Regions from separate parts of the Homo sapiens genome. Here region 2 is linked to region 1. Evidence: fine-mapped expression QTL. A gene starts in region 1. The other region holds a variant in brackets. All regions are shown on one strand. Distances are from middle to middle. Region 1 holds the start of XK (X-linked Kx blood group antigen, Kell and VPS13A binding protein). Region 2 overlaps LANCL3 (LanC like family member 3).

Region 1 (10,003 bases):
GTTTAATACATTTGTAAAAGGCCCCAAGACCTCCTGCCACTGTTGGTTAGGAAAACTGATAAGAAACAAACTACTATTCTTGGAATTCTGCAAGACTCATCTAATTACTCAAAATCTGTTCTTATTTTTTGGTTTTTTATTTGTTTGTTGCTTGAGAGGTCTAAATAAAGCCAGAAATTAGATACTTTTATCAAAACTGAATACTCAAGGTAGTTTTTCAGTATCATCTACACCAAGGGACAGCAAATTTTCTGTGAAGTATTTATAAAAAAGTAAATATTTTATGATTCACACGCCATGGTCTCTGTTGCAACTGCTCAAGTCTGTCTCTGCAATGTGAAAGCAGTTGTAGCCAGTACATAAACCAGTGAGCAACGCTGTGTTCCAATAAGACTTTACCTACTAAAACAGGTGATGGGGGTATTAGGCCTGTGGGGTACAGTTTGCTAACCCCAATGTAGATAATCAGTAGGTTGATCCTTATTTTTTACTTTATCCCATTTTCAAGCATCATATATCCCACTTTTCAAGTATCATAGCAGAAGGAGCTTATTCCTTAGCTGAAATCATGCATGCTGATGTGAGCATAAATAATCTGTGGTACCAGAGACCCTAATTAAAATACTTTTTCCAAAGAAATACTATAATTTCCAATAAGCCACATTATCTTCACATGACACACATGCTCTGTAAGCCTACACAAAACCCAAATTGGTTAAATAGAAAATGCTGCAAAACCTTTGAAAAGCCACTTGCTTAATCTCACTGAACCTCAATTCCTGGACTGTAAAAATAAGATAATGACAGTTAACTCACAGGGTTTTACCATGGATGAAATTAAATACTGTATGTAAAAGCACCTTGCAAATGAAAAAAAAATTCTCTTCAAATGTAGACTATTAATATTTTAAATTCTTTATAAAGTTTAATATAGAAAGATATACTATGGTGAATCATTTTGCAATGTTCTGGAAAGGTTTCGGGAACTTCTTAGCCTTTATTTTATAAGCTCAGATTTTTCATGTACCATTTTTTCCTCACTATACCAGTAATAAAAAAGAAATGAGGGGAATTCCTTGAAATTGTAACTCATTTATATTTATTCCTCCCAATTAATTTATAAAAATTAGCATAAATGTAAAAGAATGATAAACAGAATTTTTAAAATGTTTTTGTGTTTTAGGTAAGAGATCTTTTCCCTGCTCTGGTTTGCTAGAGTATCTATTATAATGCGCAATAAGATTTTCCTTAAAATTATAAATAAATTCAAGGCATTATCCAAAGTTCGTATCATTCAAACTCAGGCTTAATGTGAAAACAATCATAAAAACTGTAACTACCATTTTAAATACAAGACTGATACAAATGAAATATGGTGCTCTCCCTATGCCTCCCTAAAGGAAAGAAGGAGCAAAGCCTAGTTAGTAGTATTTAGTCCAGAATCATTAGTGTAATGTATTGCAGTTTAACTGGGCCATCGTGCTGCATGAACTCAAACGCAGCATCTACCTAGCAAAAACACGAGTTTGGCTAGTACTCATCCAAAGGCAAGAAGAGTTAAACTGTCAAAAAACAATTTAGAAATATTATTAAATCCAATCCATAAGGAAGGGGGTAAGAATCACCATGCCTCTCCTTTGTTTGAGGGAAATAATTTTTATCTTTATGTAAAGCTGATGTCTTAGAGTTAAAACAGAATCAAACAGTCAGCAGGAAGAAATTCCAGTAAGATATTAAGTCAGGCTAATACACAAGAACAAACTGCTTTTCTTTTAATCTGGAAGCTAAGAGACTTGGAACCACATTTTGTATCTCAGCTCTAAGGTCATGGGTCCAATAACTCCTTGAAATAAATCAGCTGCATTAGAATCAGTGACTCCTTGTTGATGGAAGGGGTTTGCCTGTTGTTTTGTTTTTTATCTTTTATTTTGTTTTTGCTCCAAGAAGACAATGGCCCATTCAGAACTTTCTGGAAATAGGTCTTTTTATAGTGTTGAAACTTTATATATAGCTGAGAAGTTATCTCTTCAAAGCACCAAAAGTTTTCTTTCCTTAATAAAGTTAAAATATTTTTATGGTAAAAACTGAAAAATATAGAAAAGTAGATAATTGTTTTATTATATAGTTTTATATATTTTCCAGGATATTATCACTCATAACCCCACTATTCAGAAATTATTATTCTTAACATCTTGGTATGTTTCCTTGAGTTCAGGTTTATACTTGTCATCCTGTTTTTATATATATTATGTCATTAGCTTTGTCTTGGGTTACTCTTCGTGTTTAGAAACACTTTAAATGGCAGCAATGATAGGGTATTATCATTTATTGGATTGCCAAGATGACCAAACTTTTTCTTAATTTAAAATGGAACTACTAATAGAATGTACTACACAGTCCTCTGCTTTCTTCCACTGAGCATAGGGAATATAATTAGCTCTTTTTAAGGAGGCTTGAGAACATAGTCTGAGGCCTCATTTTCTTCACCTACAAAATGGGGACAATTACGTCTATGTCATGGTGAGGATTCAATGAATTGAGGCATGTAAGTACATATCAAACCATCTAGCACAAGAAGCTTTTGAGAAATGTCAGTTCCCCTTTTTCCTGTTACTCCACTTAAACATTATCTGTTTTCTTCTCACAGATAATGTTAAGAAATGATAAGGCCGGGCACGGTGGCTCACGCTTGTGGTCCCAGCACTTTGGGAGGCCGAGGCAGGCGGATCACGAGGTCAAGAGATTGAGACCATCCTGGCTGGCACGGTGAAACCCCGTCTCTACTAAAAATACAAAAAAATAAAATTAGCCGGGCGTGGTGGCGGGCGCCTGTAGTCCCAGCTACTCAGGAGGCTGAGGCAGAAGAATGGCGTGAACCTGGGAAGCGGAGCTTGCAGTGAGCTGAGATCGCGCCACTGCACTCCAGCCTGGGCGACAGAGCAAGACTCCGTCTCAAAAAAAAAAAAAAAAAAAGAAAGAAAGAAAGAAAGAAAGAAAGAAAGAAATGATAAGTGCCCTGCCCAAAGTCAGATCACACTTATTTTACTGAGCAAGAATACAGTCCAGACCACAGGGCTTACCTGGCTAGGAAGGACTAACTCTCTCCTCACTAAATGGCTCCAGGTTGCAGGACTTTTAAAATTCCCCTCCCTCCCTTTCTTTTTCCCCAGACTCTTCCCCAGCTATCAAGAAGTCAGCAGCAACCTCCCACTCCTGCCAGTGTACCTGTTTATTTTCCTTTCTAGGATTCTGCAGCTTCTGGAGGCTGAGAAATTTGTTCACCAAGTTTGCTGTGACTGTGTGCAAACTACAAGTCAGTAGTTTGTGTGTCAGCTGGAACAGTTTTCTTTAATATGAGGTGCAAAAATTTTATGGCCAGGCGTGGTAGCTCATGCCTGTAATTCCAGCACTTTGGGAGGCCTGGGCAGGAGGATCATTTCAGCTCAGGAGTTCCAGACCATACTGGGCAACATAGAGAGAACTTTAGGAGGCCCAGACAGGAGGATCACTGGAACTCAAGAGCTCGAGACCAGCCTGGGCAACATAGGGAGACTCTGTCTCTACAAAAAATACAAAAAAAAAGAAAGAAAAAAGAAAATTAGCCAGGCATGATGGCGCTTGCCTGCAGTCCTAGCTACTCTGGAGACTGAGGCAGGAGTATCACTTGTGCCCAGGAGGTGGAGGATGCAATGAGCTATGATCTTGCTACTGCACTCCAGCCTGGCTGATAAAGCAAGACCTTGTCTCAAAAAAAAAAAAATTATAACTTTGTAAAATTTATCTTGCTCCTCAATGTGTGTGTGTGCGTGTGTGTGTGTGTGTGTGTGTGTGTGTGTGTAAGAGAGAGAGAGAAAGAGAGAGAGAGAGAGAGAGATTTCCTGGTAGGGCTAGCTGAATTTTCTGGCAGCTGAGGTGTCTCTCTGGCCTTTCCATCTCTTCAAATTCCTCTGTCGCCTATGTCTAAAATTCAGTATTATAAACTTATTTCTAATCCAAATGGACGGCCTTTGTTTTGCTTTTCCTATAGTGATGAAAGGTACTAAAACAACACATTTTAAACTCCTTAGATAAGCCAGTCTGTTTTATTACCATGTATTTCTACTTGCTTTGTGTTAATAAAAATTAATTTCCAGAAATGTCACCAACAGTTTTTCTTTACTTAACACACAGCAAGTTTTGTTTTCATGGTGCATTGTGCACCAGCTTTAATGGCTACGTTTATAAGTTTGCCAGGGCCGGAAGACATTTCTAGAACCCCATATGTTTCCATATCCCATAATATTCGTAACGCCACCAAGAGAAAAGAATGGTGCATGGATTTCTTGACTTCCCTATGAGAATTAAATACTGTTAAAGCTTTTAGAACAGTGCTTGGCACACAGTAAGCTCCATGTGTTTGATAAATTAAAATTAAATCACCTGTACATGCTGTCCCCGTAACCACAGCTTAGAACACACTTCCCAAGGGTTTGTGACAACACAAGCCAATCCTGTCAGAGCCTACTTGACCCCAGAGAAACCAATGTCTTTAATGAGGTTGAACCACAAGAAACTGCCATTTTTGTTGGTCAATTTCAGTTGAATGTTGGCTATTTCATTTGACGGAACCTAACAGGAATTCAGTGTGCCCCAACTTTATAACCATTATGCCATGATTCGTCGCGTTCCTGACTGGAATAATGGGGCTGAGGGGCATGGCGGACCGGCTTGGGGCTCAGCCACCTGTCTCCACAGGAAAACCGCCTCCCTCCACTCGAGCAGGTGGGGAGATCAGGCTACAGGACCGAGGCTGCGGCCTGGGGCTGGCTCTGGGCTTCTGCACGCACCTGAAAAGGGGCCCAAGTTGCAGCAGGTGCAGCAGCAGTACGAGCGGGCGGTCGCGGCTGAGGTCGCGGTGTACGAAGAGAAGCGTGAGCTGCACGAGCGCGCAAGGCAGTAGCGAGAAAAGCAACGTCAGCGCCTGCCACATGCGGTCCCCGCCCGAGCGGTAGGTGCTGCTCAGGCTGAGCGCCGCCGTTGTCTCGGCCACGAACAGGAACACGGACGCCAGCACCGAGGCCGGGAATTTCATCTCCGCGCGTCAGCGGCGCTCACCGGGGACGGACGCAGTGGCGGCGGCTGTGTGGCTGTGGCGGCGGCGGCCGTTGCCCGAGGGGCTCCCAGCATGCCCAGCCCCAAACCGCTCCCGCGCTCTGCGCAGCCCGCCGAGGGCACGCGGGCCCGGCCGACCGGCCTGGGCTCTGGAACTGGACCTGGTGGGGGCGGCCGACCTGGCTGGGGTGGGGTGGGGTGGGGCGAGCTGCGCAGCCCCGCCGGGACACGCCCACGCGCTCCGTGCGCCGCCTGCTCGCTCGCTCGCCAGTGCCGGCTGCGTCTCTGTGGTGACCGTCCCCTGGCGGGCCGCGAACCCGCGCCCTACGACGGCTCAGGCCATGGAGCGGGAGCTCAAAAGGATGCAGTTCGCCCTGCGGGCGTCGCGCGCAGCCTCTGGGTCCTAGAGTCCCTTGGGTCCTATCTTGGGAAACCGTTCACATCCCTTTGAAAAACTGCAACCACCCGGGCCCAGAATTGGAGTCCGGGCGCCTTTCTAGCCCAGTCTATTTTCTGGGCCGAGGAAACGCGTGATTCTTCAAAGGGCCAGCATTTCTGGCCTTTTAAAAATAACCAGACCACACAGAGGCTTTTCAAAGTGCAAGTATATTGTCATGCACCCACCACCAAGTGGGAAAAGATTTCACTTTTCACTGTGCCATGTGAGCATGTCCCTTTGTCTTCCAAATACAGTGGTCTGAAGCATTGCTTCCAGTGGTGAAAAGGCGTCAAAGATCGTCTCTAGGAACCTGTCCTTACCTCCCAGAAAAACTGCCTACAAAATATATTCCTCTGTAACTGTAAGTAATTCAGGGCAAAGATCAGGGCCTAATAAGGAAGTAGTTTTTTTTATTCCAAGACAGACCTCTGCTTATTGGTGTGCCAATACCAAGACTAACACAACTCCTTTTAGCCCATTGAACTTTCCACCATCTTCTTGATATCAGGATGTACTCAGTCCACCCCCGTCCCTCAGACCTCGATCAAGTCACTAAATCTTTCTGAAACTCAGGTTCCATAAAGGGATTAGACTTAAATAATTATAAGATCTCTTCCCCTGTTGAAATTGGGTGATTTCAATCTTCAGGCATCTCTGGCATTTTTCTATTTAGGAAAATAATGTAAACACAAATAGAATATAAAGATTCAAAAGGAATCAAACCAAAAAAGAGGTACAGGGAGAGAATGTGGTGGGCTGTTTTTCTGTTTTTTATGTGGCATGAGAAAATCCATTTATGAGTTAAGGGGCAGATTCAGCCAGCAGCTGAGAGGTAGCAGGCCCTTTCCCTAAAAGGATTACTAATGTCTATTTATAGAACCCAGAAGGCCACCATGTCCTGGGCCAAGATACATACACTGCCACAAATACAGAATCAGCAGCAACACTCCACAGAGTATTTGTGTAATGTTTTACTTGACATCATGGTTAGCTTTAAAGGAAAAATTGGTAGCTTAGAATTATTAATCAGGACACTGAATATTTAGCATTAGATTTTATTTTAAGGCAAAGGATTATCACAGGTTTTACATTAAGTGTACTGTACATAAATGTATTATAAGGAGGGGCAATAAGCCAATAAATAACATCGCTTTAAACACTATAAAGTCCAGTTTATAGCGAATTATTTTCTACAGTACAAAACGAATACAGAAAACACATTTGGAAAGATCACAGTGTTTAGAACATTGTAACAGCAGTTGTAAAAACCATAAAGTGCATCTCTAAGCTTCTGACTCTATCTTGCTTATAGAGATTTCATTATACCATGCAGTGGGCTGTGAGCAAACTCCCACATGAAAGGGAAGCAATATCAACTGACTAGTACTATCCCCTGCAGAACAACCAATAACAAAAGCTAAATTCTGATGAGCATTTGCAAGTTGATCCTTCTTAGTCTGCACACCAGCTAACTTGCTCCAGTGATCACGTCTTTCTGTATTATCATTTGCCATTTTGTCCTTGAAAATAATATATATCTTATAGCTTATGATTGCTAATTTCCCTGTCAGACACCTCAATGGGTTTTGACTAAAGATTAATGTCATGTATTGCATTATACTTTTTCACTAGGACCAAAATACCCATTATTTTTAAAAATATTATGTACATAATAATAGACTTATAGAAAGTGATGTTTTGGTATATTAATATGTAACATACCAGAATACTTGAGAATTTGGTTTTATTATAAAATACAGTAGTATGACATTTTGTGATATAGTAAAATATCTGGCAAAATATTCTACTCTAAATTTAGACCTAATTGCTGCAGATGTCTTTGAAAGAGCCTCAAAGTGCCCCTAAGGAAATATAACAATTAGCAAGAGGTCATATAACCTGTTATGGCAAAGACATTTTTAAAAAGCCTTTCATTTTGTGTCCGAGTCTTTCAAAATTTTACTTGTATACAACAGATAAGTGCTGTTTGATTTAGTGCTAATGGAAATTAGTAGGATTTTAAAGTAGTAACAACCAATCACTATTATTTTTTTTTATAATTTTATGTTTTTAACTCTGCATTTGTGCCAAGGCAAATATATTGCAAATAGTACAATTTTATTAATAATACTAATTCTTTGATCAGTTCCTCAAAATTCAGTAGTACTTTAAATAATAGTAGTTATTCATTCCTAGATACAATTTGAAATAAGCAGTTATACTATATTGACAGAGTATTTCTTTGTACCTCCTCATAAGTAAGAAATTGCCCTAATGTGCAGTTTGTGAAATGTATCATTAGGAAGGTGAGCTTTGTTTTTTTCAATGATACAATTATATTTCTGTAAGTATTGTGATTTATGCCAAAAAAGCTTTTTGGAGCAGTAAATTCTATTCGCTGGGAAATACACATTCCAAAACTAACATGTGGTGCTTGACCCAGTATATATTCACCAGTATATGGCTTTGCAAAGTGCTCCCCCTAATAATTTGATTCTACGAAATCCATTTTTTAATGTTTGTTAATTTAGAGCCATTGGATTAAAGATATTAAAATTCAGACTTCCAAGAAGAGTTCCCCCAGATGTTCAAAGTTGAGAAAGCTGTACCTTTTCAAAGATTGGGCCGTCCTTCCTTAACAGATTCTAAAACCAAACTTCTGCACTTAGAATATTCCATTTCTACTGCTAGAGAGTCTATGTGCAACTCATGTTACATTTTGCATTTTCAAGAACATAGGGATTCTACTGCTGCTACAGTATTCAAAAGACATCTTTAATATTGAAATAGCAAAGTCCTAAAAAACAAAGACAAAACGGATGATCTAAATCAATCCACATGTTTGAATATATCCACATATAAGGGTTACCACATTCAATATGAACCAAATTCAGCAGCAGAATTAATTATATTGGTAACTGCCACTTAAGCATAGATTTTAAAATGAAACTTGTGGGGACAACGTCAGAGACCCCACTAAAACCAAGTTGCAAAAAGATCACTTGTTAAAGATTGACAGTAGTCAATTATAGTCTGTATCTTTAAAACTGACTGCTATGTCACAGCTACTTCATACATATTACTAGAACAGTACACATTAAAGCATGTACATTGTCACCACACACAAAATATAAAAATATTGGGAGGCCGAGGCGGGCGGATCACGAGGTCAGGAGATCGAGACCATCCCGGCTAAAACGGTGAAACCCCGTCTCTACTAAAAATACAAAAAATTAGCCGGGCGTAGTGGCGGGCGCCTGTAGTCCCAGCTACTTGGGAGGCTGAGGCAGGAGAATGGCGTGAACCCGGGAGGCGGAGCTTGCAGCGAGCCGAGATCCCGCCACTGCACTCCAGCCTGGGCGACAGAGCGAGACTCCGTCTCAAAAAAAAAAAAAAATAAAAAAATAAAAATAAAAATAAAACATCAGCAAGAATTGCATTACTCTACTTAAGAAACTGTATGTATTTGGTGTTTACACATATACACATTCACATATCCCCCACCACACCCCCACATCTTTTTAGAGTGTTCACCGTTTCTGAAAGAATAAGAGGAAGGTATATATTTTGGTACTTTCTGAAGATCTATGTCCAAGTGCAAGACTTTAAAGCCATCTGTTGGTTTCAATTTAGGAGGTGGTTGTTCTAGAACAAAAGAGATATTGTGGCTCTCGGGTGATTCTGAATACAAAGATAAATAGAAATGGGCCCCAAAAGGAGTGGAGAAAGAGAGGAAAACACAAAGTTTTTCTTATGGAGAGACACTTGTGGCAATTTCTAGGATTCTTATAGACACAGAACTCAACAACTAAACAACGTCAAACAGGTTTTTTTACCCAGGAGAGTTTACTCAATCTTTAATATGTTAATGTACCATGTAATCTTCAAAAGGGGGTAAAATAATAAAACTTTCCTAACTTATTTAATCACAGATTAAATTTTTCCACAGGGCAGCTCATGGTACTGCTGGGCTGCATTTGGGGAAATATTGCAGCTCTCGTGTAATAGGCAGGTTCTGTTTACATTTTCTCCCATAACAACGAAGGAAGGTAGGAAGACTTTATCAATACTAGGAAACAGGAATGGGACTGTCCAATACAATAGCCAACTCACATGCAGCTCTTATACACTTGAAATGTGGCTACTTCGAGACTGGAGATGTATAGTAAGTATAAAATACACACTAGAGTTTGAAGACTCAGTACAAAAATGTAAAATAGCTCATTCATGTTTTTATATTGATTGCATATTGAAATGCTATCATTTTGGATATATAAGGCTAAGTCAAATACATTATTAAAATTAATTTCATCTTTTTCTTTTACCTTTTTGGTAGCTACTAGAAAATTTGAAAATTGCATATGTGGTTTGCATTCGTGGCTCACAGCACAATTCTAGCAGACACTGCTGCTGTATTTGTGAAACTCATGGCTGTTATCTTCTACAGATGGTTACTAATGGCTTCAACCTAGC
Region 2 (10,003 bases), 36 kb after region 1:
CACTGTTGTGTTAGATCTCTCTCTGTTGTGTTAGAGCTCTCTCTTTCTCTCTCACTAGACTATCAGTTCTTTGAGAGCAAACACTGTGGCACCTCATAATTTTGGTATCCTTGGTGCCTAACACAGAGTCTGAGGGGGGTCCTTCACAACCGATGAGTGAGTAAATAAGTGACAGTTTAACTGGTATGAAATTCAGAGCCCTCCCTCCCTTCATTCTTTATTCGCTTCCTCCGTCCCTCTCTTTCCCTCCGCTCCACGATTGTTTCTTAAGCCTCTACTACATTCCAGGCAAGACTGTTCTGGATGCTGGAGATATGACAGTGAGCAAGATAGACAGAACCTGTGCTCTCATGAAGCCAATCTTCCCAAAAGGTAGACCTGCACAGGAAACGTACTGGTCAGATTAACCAAAACTAAAAAACATCTAAGTTTAGTCTGATTGAATGAATCTGGGATCAATAAAAAGTCCGTTGGATTTTGGCCTCTCTCCTAAAACTGACACATTTAATTTTCCTACCCAATATCCAGCATTAGACCAGCCAATTCCTTTTGAAATAAGTTTCTAATGATTTATTCATAAATTGCTCCTCTGATTTACCTGGTATTAGAAGGAAAAAATATAATCCAGCTTTGGTTTCCCAAAATCTAGCATTTAATTTGGAAAAATAATTACTTCATGAGGATACCATTCATTAATTAATTCTGCCAATTAACATTTATTGAGCTACTATTCCAGTAAGGTCCCACACTAGGTGTTGTGGAGAAATTTGAGAAACCATGAGACATATTTTTTCCCTACAGGCAAGTTACCATCCAGCACTGGAGATGAGATATAGACAAGAGTCTACAATAGAGCAACTAAAGCTCATGAGCCTAGAGATAGAAAGAAACAGTAATGCAGAGTAGGTAAGATGGACTCGGCTTCAGTAAGACTACATTCTCTTTTTTTTTTTTCTATTTGCTGAAATAATGATGTCATGGCTTTCAACTTAAATTTCCCTTTTATTAACCACTCTCTCTGTCTCTTAAGTGTACTCCTCCTAACATTCCTGAAGACCCTATCTTCCTATGCTGCATCCCCACTGTCCTATCATATCAGCCCCAAGTCTTCTTTCCTTAGCTTAATAGCAAATTTCTCCTAAATGATTAAATACAACCATTCAAATTGCTACCATAATTTTCATTTGGTATTGAAAACATTTACTCTTTGTGTCTTTATCAGTGCCAACTGATCTTAAGTTTAGTCTTACACTACTTAAAATCTTGCATCATCATTTGTCTCAAATCAACCCCTCTTTCTCAGAAACCTGCTAAAAGCCCTGAAGGGCATGCACTTAATTGGACTCTATCCTGATTGAATCCCATAGTCTTCTGGGAATATATCTGGCTCTGCTCAATATTGATTTTGAATCCATATGACAGAGGAAGTTTTTGTGGTAGGAAACAGTCACTGAATTTTCAGGGATGTATTCATTTGCACTACTAAAATTTTTCCTATTTGACTTTCATGCCTATAACTGAAAATTGGCTTATTTCCCCAGCTGAACATTTATTCATATGTTGTGTGTGTGTGTGTGTGCATGTCTGTGTACGTGTGTGTTTGCCTGCTTATTTTTAACCCAGAAAAAAATCAACTTACACTATATGTGGTGCCCTCCCCCTTTCTTTCTATCCCGAATCCACAGCTTAGAATAGGGAATGAGTTTATAAAATATTATTTCAAAACCTCCCATGGTCATGTATCATGTCTGGGTGGTTTCCTCTTATCTCTCAGAAACACTGTGAAAAACAAAGAGAAACCGGCGCTTGTTCGGCTGGATAGAGACCAGTTATGCATGCAGTTCTTTATCTCTGGGAACAGACAAGACCTACCCTCAGTTTACTGATCAGCAAATAAAAACTAAAAACAGAGTTCATTAAAAGCCTGTGTGTGGGGAACACTGAGGAAGAGTATTTTTCGCCCCCGAACAAACAGTACAGAAAGAAGAAGGGAGTTGAGATTCTGGGGTAAGGGCTTGAGCTTGTTCTCCTGTGTCTGCTTTCTCAAATATCCCTCCACTCTCTGCCCCTAGTACACAGGAGCACAAGCATGAGCACACCCACTGCCTCCAAAGATGGCCTCTGTGCTTTTGAGACACTCTGAGATCCTGGGAATGAGGGAGCAGCATTTCCGGTGGGGGAACAAAAATGACTAGGAATGGCAGAGCGGGGCTCCCTGGCCATCAGGCCTTCACCAAACAAACCCAAATTATTCCCTCTCCTGTAGTTGTAGCCCCTAAGATCAATGCATTTGTTGATATTTTGGATGGAATAGATTCTTTTCTTTTTACATTGAATTAAAATAAATTAAGATATTTCAAAAATACGAAGCAAATCTGAGGTGGTTTGGTTTAAACCGTTTTGTTTAGTTTAACTGATTCACTTTACTGACCTTGTGAAATATTCCTATTGGTTTGGCCTGAGTATGAAGAGACAAGAGGGCAATAAAGCTCATACTATATTTCTTGGCCCTGCCTGAAAGTCATGCTATGACTGAACTACCTCCATGCAGAGGAGAGATGACTTTCTTTGAAAAAAAAAAGTCAATAAAAAGGACCAAACCACAGAATGCTGGCCTCACCACTGACTCCTTCCCAAGGCAAGAGTCCTACCTACAGGAAGTGGCAGTCTTTGCTAGCTGTATTTCTTTTTCTAGGCATCAAACACCTCCTGCCCCTCCCCCATCAGCACTGACTGAATATGCGAATAGCAACTAAGTCTTGGGTGTGCCAGTGTCCTAAGGCATACAATGCCAATCAAATTCCTCCTCTCAACAATTTGAAATGCATGTTCAAAAAAAAAAAAAATGAAGCTGTCAGCAATCCCAGCTGCTGCTGAAGACAGGTCAGGAATGGGTCCATGCATAAACTGAGGTCAACAGGGAGTAAGCAGGGGCTGTGATGGAGAAAAACAGAATAAACCACCCAGCAGTGAGAGTGAAAGGAGACTGACCAGCAGTGAGAGTGAAAGGAGACTGACCAAACACCACATGTTCTCACTCATAGGTGGGAATTGAACAATGAGAACACCTGGACACAGGAAGGGGAACATCACACACTGGGGCCTGTCATGGGGTTGGGGGAGGGAGGAGGGATAGCATTAGGAGATATACCTAATGTAAATGACGAGTTAATGAGTGCAGCACACCAGCATGGCGCATGTATACATATGTAACAAACCTGCACATTGTGCACATGTACCCTAGAACTTAAAGTATAAAAAAAAAAACTTGCAAAAACCAGAAAAAGAAAGTTTATTATATCAGTAAAGAGGGATTAGGAAAAAGGACACAAATAAAAAGAATGTGAGTGTGCATATTCACATTATTTCTATTTTCTAATATTGGTAAGTCTTTTAATTAGTTAAAAAACATAAACTTAACTATAAAGAATAACAAAATTGCCAACTCTAAAGACTTTAAAAAGTCATAAAATGAAACAAATTTAACTGCATGTCAAGTTAAAGGCATAACCGCACAGATAAAATAATTAATTTTTTAAATAATGGTTTTTTTCATTGTGGAAGACAGTGTGGCGATTCCTTAAAGATCTAGAACTAGAAATACCATTTGACCCAGCCATCCCATTACTGGGTATACACCCAAAGGATTATAAATCATGCTGCCGTAAAGACACATGCACATGTATGTTTCTTGCTGCACTATTCACAATAGTAAAGACTTGGAACCAACCCAAATGTCCATCAGTGATAGACTGGATTAAGAAAATGTGGCATATATACACCATGGAATACTATGCAGCCATAAAAAAGGATGAGTTCTTGTCCTTTGTAGGGCCATGGATGAAGCTGGAAACCATCATTCTGAGCAAACTATCTCAAGGACAGAAAACCAAACACCACATGTTCTCATTCATAGGTGGAAATTGAACAATGAGAACACCTGGACACAAGGTGGGGAACATCACACACTGGGGCCTGTCGTGGGGTGGGGGGAGGGAGGAGGGATAGCATTAGGAGATATAAATGACAAGTTAATGGGTGCAGCACACCAACATGGCACATGTATACATATGTAACGAACCTGCACATTGTGCACATGTACCCTAGAACTTAAAGTATAATAATAAAAAAAAAGAGAAAAAAAAAAGAGAGTGAAAGGAGACTGCAGCAGATATGCTAAAAGAAACAATGATACCAAGAGAGAAAGTTAAAGAAAAGTAGCTCGTCCTTATAGCTCCCTCTTCCTAACAGTTTAGGGCTACTCCCTTTAGGGCTTCCTACCAATTTTCCATACAATACCCACCCCCATACTCCGCCCTTTCTTTTTAGTCATTTGAGAGTCTCAGTTTCTTGCAAAAAGAGCCTAACTAGAATAGATATGAATATAAAGCCAAACCTTTCATTTGTCGTTTCATCCCTCACATAAACACATCAGTTTTCCTACCTACCATACTAGATCCTTTCACTCAAAATAACAAAGATACCTGCATCTATGGTGCATGATAAGGTACATGCTAAGACTCTTCTGGGCATGGGACCCGGCATTGGGGCTTTTTTTTTTTTTTTTCCCTGAGATGGAGTTTCACTCAGTCACCCAGGCTGGAGTGCAGTGGCACGATCTTGGCTCACTGCAACCTCCACCTCCTGGATTAAAGCAATTCTTCTGCCTCAGCCTCCTGAGTCACTGGGATTACAGGTGCCCACCACCACACCTGGCTAATTTTTTGTGTTTTTAGCAGAGACGGGGTTTCACCATGTTGGCCAGGCTGGTCTCGAATTCCTGACCTCGGGCGATCTGCCCACCTTGGCCTCCCAAAGTGGTGGGATTACAGGCGTGAACCACCACGCCTGGCCGGGATCTTTTTTAAGCTCCCCAGTGGATTACAAAGAGTGGTCAAGGTTGAGAACTACTGCCATAAAATACTAAGTGAGTGCAAAAATAGTTCTTAAAACCAAAGTAATAATAATATAATACAATATAATAATAATGATGAAGACGAGGGCTAAAGGGAAAACTAGCAAAAGAACTCCCAGGTATAAAGAAATGCCTTTGGTGTGAGTCATGGAGGACTCAGAATTATCTGTCCAGTCTTAAATTATCTGTCCTCAAACTTCTGTCAATTGCCCATTTGAGACCTCTGATATCTCTAAGAGGTATATGCTCCTCAAAGTGTGGTCCATGGACCAGCAGTAAAGGTATCCTGATAGAAATTCAAATTCCCAGGCCCCAGCCCAGACCCAGTGAATTAGAAACTGAATTTTATTTGTTTTAATTTATTTTTTATTGTTTTATTTTACTTTAAGTTCTGGGATACATGTGCAGAATGTGCAGGTTTGTTACATAGGTATACGTGTGTCATGGTGGTTTGCTG[T/C]ACCTATTGACCTGTCCTCTAAGTTCCCTCCCCATGCCCCCCATCCCCCAACAGGACCTGGTGTGTGTTGTTCCTCTCCCTGTGTCCATGTGTTCTCATTGTTCAACTCCCACTTATGAGTGAGAACATGCAGTGTTTGGTTTTCTGTTCCTGTGTTAGTTTGCTGAGGATGATGCCTTCCAGCTTCATTCATGTCCCTGCAAAGGACATGATCTCATTCCTTTTTATGGCTGCATAATATTCCGTGGTATATATGTGCTACATTTTCTTTATCCAGTCTATCATTGATGGGCATTTGGGTTGTTTCCATGACTTTGCTATTGTAAATAGTGCTGCAATAAACATACATGTGCATGTGTCTTTATAGTAGAATAATTTATATTCCTTTGGGTATATACCCAGTAATGGGATTACTGGGTCAAATGGTATTTCTGGTTCTAGATCCCTGAGGAATCACCATACTATCTTACACAATGGTTGAACTAATTTACACTCCCACCAACAGTGTAAAAGTCTTCCTATTTCTCCACAGCCTCACCAGCATCTATTGTTTCTTGACTTTTTAATAATTGCCATTCTGACTGGCATGAGATGGTGTCTCATTGTGGTTTTGATTTGCATTTCTCTAATGATCAGTGATGTTGAAATTTTTTTCATGTTTTTTGGCCATGTAAATGTCTTCTTTTGAGAAGTGTCTGTTCAGATCTTTGCCCACTTTTTGTAGGGTTGTTTTTTTCTTGTAAATTTGTTTAAGTTCCTTGTAAATTCTGGATATTAGACCTTTGTCAGATGAGTAGATTGCAAAAATTTTCTCCCATTCCGTATGTCACCTGTTCACTCTGATGAAAGTTTCTTTTGCTGTGCAGAAGCTCTTTAGTTTAATTAGATCCCATTTGTCAATTTTGGCTTTTGTTGCAATTGCTTTTGGCGTTTTCGTCATGAAGTCTTTGCCCATGCCTGTGTCATGAATGGTATTGTCTAGGTTTTCTTCTAGGGTTTTTATGGTTTTGGGTTTTACATTTAAGTCTTTAATCCATCTTGAGTTAATTTTTGTATAAGGTGTAAGGAAGGGGTACAGTTTCTGTTTTCTGCACATGGCTAGCCAAGAAACTGAATTTTAAAAAGATCACCAGATGGTAGCATATGCCCATGAAAGTTTGAGAAGCACTGGCTTAAGATACATTAGCTATAAATTATTTAAATTTCCCAATATTAGGTTAGGTCCTGACAACACTGTATATCTGGAGTATACAAATCTGGCTTTCCACAGATTATTTTTTCTAACTATGACTATCGTGGCTTTGGTTTCTATATAAAGGAAAGGTTGATTTTTTAAAAAAAGACAAGTTTTGTAAAACTGCTGTTGAAGATATTGTTCACAGTTTTCTAACGCCTCTGTATGAAGGCCTAAGTGATAAGCTACCCTCATAGCCCACCTAACAAAGTGAAGTGAGAGTTTGTCTTAGTCTTGAGGGCCAAAAGGCAGAGTTAATTCCTGTGCTTAGTGCAGAAACTTCCTTTACCCTAGGGGTTTTGCTATAAACATTTTACCTCTTAAACCTTAATCCATGTTGAATGGTTAATGGTTTCACTGTATTTGTGAATTTTTGTTGTAAACCACCCCAAACACGTTTTTGGAAGTGGGTAGAGCCCAAGGAAACATTTTTACAATATACGGAGTATGCGTCTTAAGGTGACAATGAATTATTAGTGCAGAAGTACAGTTCTAAGTCTGACCTGACAGGCAATCCTTACAGAATCTGAAACAACTGTAAGGAGGTGCTAGACTTCCCACCCTAGGCCTTGCTCAAGCACCACCAACATTATCATGCAAGAGTCCAAAATGCCCTGAGTGCCCATCTGCATAGAATGCAGGGTCACTCTGATATCATAGCAAACATATATGTAACAGAGTAAGAATCTGATATTAACTTAATGTTTTCACCCAGCAATTTATTTCACCCAATCCTTTGCCTCATCATCCTGTTGGTAGGATAGGCTTCTGCCTAGAGAAAGAAGCCATCTGACTACCCAATAAACATCAAAATGACTTTTTTGTATGTCTTTTTTTAAAGTTAGAGCTACTGGAATGAGACAAATGACTTTTGATACGCATGAACAATAAAGAAAAAAGTTTTTGGGTTGTTAGATCCTGGGTTTTGTTTTGTTTTTTTGTTTTTTTGTTTTTTTGATGAAGTCTTGCCCTGTCGCCCAGGCTGGAGTGCAGTGGCATGATCTCAGCTCACTGCAAGCTCTGTCTCCCAGGTTCATGCCATTCTCCTGCCTCAGCCTCCCAAGTAGATGGGACTACAGGCGCCTGCCACCACGCCTGGCTAATTTTTTGTATTTTTAGTAGAGACGGGGTTGCACCCTCTTAGCCAGGATGGTCTCGATTTCCTGACCTCGTGATCTGCCCGCCTCGGCCTCCCAAAGTGCTGGGATTACAGGTGTGAGCCACCACACCCAGCCTCCTGGGTATTTTTAATACTTAAAATTGATACCATAAAACAATGGATTTGAAGGATAGTTCCGAATAAACTCAGGATGGAGATACAAGCTGTTCAAGGTGGGATGAGTTGACATAGAAAAGAAACCAGAAGTTGAAAGTCAGTGTGAGTGTGGTGTTCCTGCTTTCCTACCTCCATCCCATCATGCCAAGCCTTAGGAGTCTTACAACAGGCCTCCAGACAGGTTTGAGGATCTACAGTTTGTTAGGATATGTGCCTCCCTTTTGCCTGGAACTCAGGAAGATGGCAGCCTCAGAGGTGTGTCTCTTGCTTCAGGGTCTGGGACCAGCAAAAGAGATACCACCACGTGGCCTGTCCCACATGAAACAGCAGAAGATGATCCTGAGTTTCCTATGGGCACCAGAACAGAGTAGTAAAACATCTCATCTCCAAAATTAAACTTATTTTTTAAAATTCCCAGTCCAAATTATTTCAAATTAAAAAGTTAGAGAAATTGTTTATACAAAGTCAATATTCACAAGTGGTTAAATTTTTACTTCCTATATCTCTTTGGGGTTGTAGTTCACTTGGAATCCACTAGGTTACAAGAAAGAGCCAGGCCTTTCAGGAAATCTCTGTAGCAGATAAAGATTTACTTAAGGTATTGAGAAGACAGAAACTTGGAGGAGCTTCTTTGAGGAAGAACATCATGAGCACTCTTACAGTGCATAGTGACCTCCAGAGAACATCATGAGCAGAAAAGGTGTTGAGCAAGCTTAAAGATACAAAATAGGGCTTAAGAAAAACCTTCAAGTAGGAAACTGATCTTGACAAACTGAATAATTCATGAGTATTATGTGCAAAGCCTATGCTAGGTTGGAGAAACATGGAATCTTAATAATGAGACTAAGTAGACATGCAAAACATTTAAATAATGAAATATTCAGCATTCATTTAAATCCTAAAAGTAGTACTGTAAAGGAGTAACGTGAATGGAGTAAATATTGGCTTCATAGAGGAAGAGGAATATGAGCTGAGCTTTGAAGGACAAGTAGGAAGTGGGTAAATGAAAGCATGGGGAAGAGAGCATTTTTAACTTATTGGATGATGGGGAGAGTCCTGTGTATTGGGGCAATGCTTCAAAAACCTCAAGGTGCACACACATTACTTGGGGCTCTTGATAAAAAACAAAGATTCTAATTCGGTAGGTCTAGGATGGGGCCAGGATTCTGTTACTAACAAGCTCCTTGTTACAACAGTAGTGATGCTGAGGCTGACACTGCTGGTTCATCAACCACACTTGAAGTAGCAAAGGATTATGAAAATAGAGAGGCTGGTTGCAGCAGAGGATTTCTTTTGGAAAAGGTGAGAAGTTAGACCGAAGGAACAATAGAAGTTCCCAACGACATTCAAGGCAGCGAGAGGAAGCATCAAGCAAAAGTGTTGCATATTATCATTTAAATGATTAGATTACCCAGAAAAGGGACACAGCAACGATAAGAAATTCTCTTCCAATATTCTGCATGTAAGACAGACATGTCCATATTTGCATGCTCCACTGAGGAGCTCTTTTAGCCAGTGTGGCCAGGTTTGTTATTTTCTTAACTGGTCTCTAAATGGGGCATGTGTGCTGGTGCAGAATGAGCAAGTCCCTTCCATCTGGTTTTCCTGATGCTCCCTGATCATTATTATGCTGGGCTATGAGGAATAGGAAGCAGGTTGCTCTAGTTGATGATTATCCTCCAGTCATTAAAGGGATTCAGCATGGAATTTCAGTTATAAACATTTGGTCCCAGGTACCATTTCACAGTTGTTTCTTTTCCCTTCTCATGTGAAGAAACATAAACCCAGAAAACACTAGAAACCAGAAAAGAAAAACAGGTTTTACCCCATTCTTACAGCCTGACTGCTGGCTTTAAAGATTTATCAGAAGTAGCTGGTAACCCAGTCTGCACCAACTGTCACTAGATGATTTTATTCTCTTTCTTCTAAGACACTAAATGTCTCAGAGCACAAGCTTCCTTATCTACAAAAACAGGATTACGTTTGCCCCACCTATCTCCTCAGGTAATAATGAGACTCTTATGAAAAAGCAGTTCCCAACGTTTGACTGCATACTGCAATCACCTGGGGAGCTTTTAAAAATCCCAATGCCCTGTCCACACCCGACACTGATTACATCAG

What was found. PIP is the estimated chance that this variant, and not a neighbour inherited with it, causes the effect.
Region 2: its variant is fine-mapped to the expression of XK in whole blood (TOPMed, PIP above 0.99).

Annotation. Positions count from the first base shown.
Region 1 is chrX:37,681,030-37,691,032 of GRCh38, reverse strand. XK (X-linked Kx blood group antigen, Kell and VPS13A binding protein) reads right to left here and starts at 5,242. Exons shown (of 3, transcript NM_021083.4): 1 at 4,827-5,242. The coding sequence starts at 5,071. LANCL3 (LanC like family member 3) reads right to left here. Exons shown (of 5, transcript NM_001170331.2): 5 at 6,570-10,003. RefSeq lists enhancers at 4,430-4,939, 4,940-5,451 and a silencer at 5,121-5,500.
Region 2 is chrX:37,644,871-37,654,873 of GRCh38, reverse strand. The region is part of intron 1 of LANCL3 (LanC like family member 3); the gene reads right to left. Among named protein-coding and RNA genes, the nearest start is that of XK, 36 kb to the left of the region's middle. The variant T/C (reference allele first, on the strand shown) is at 5,373.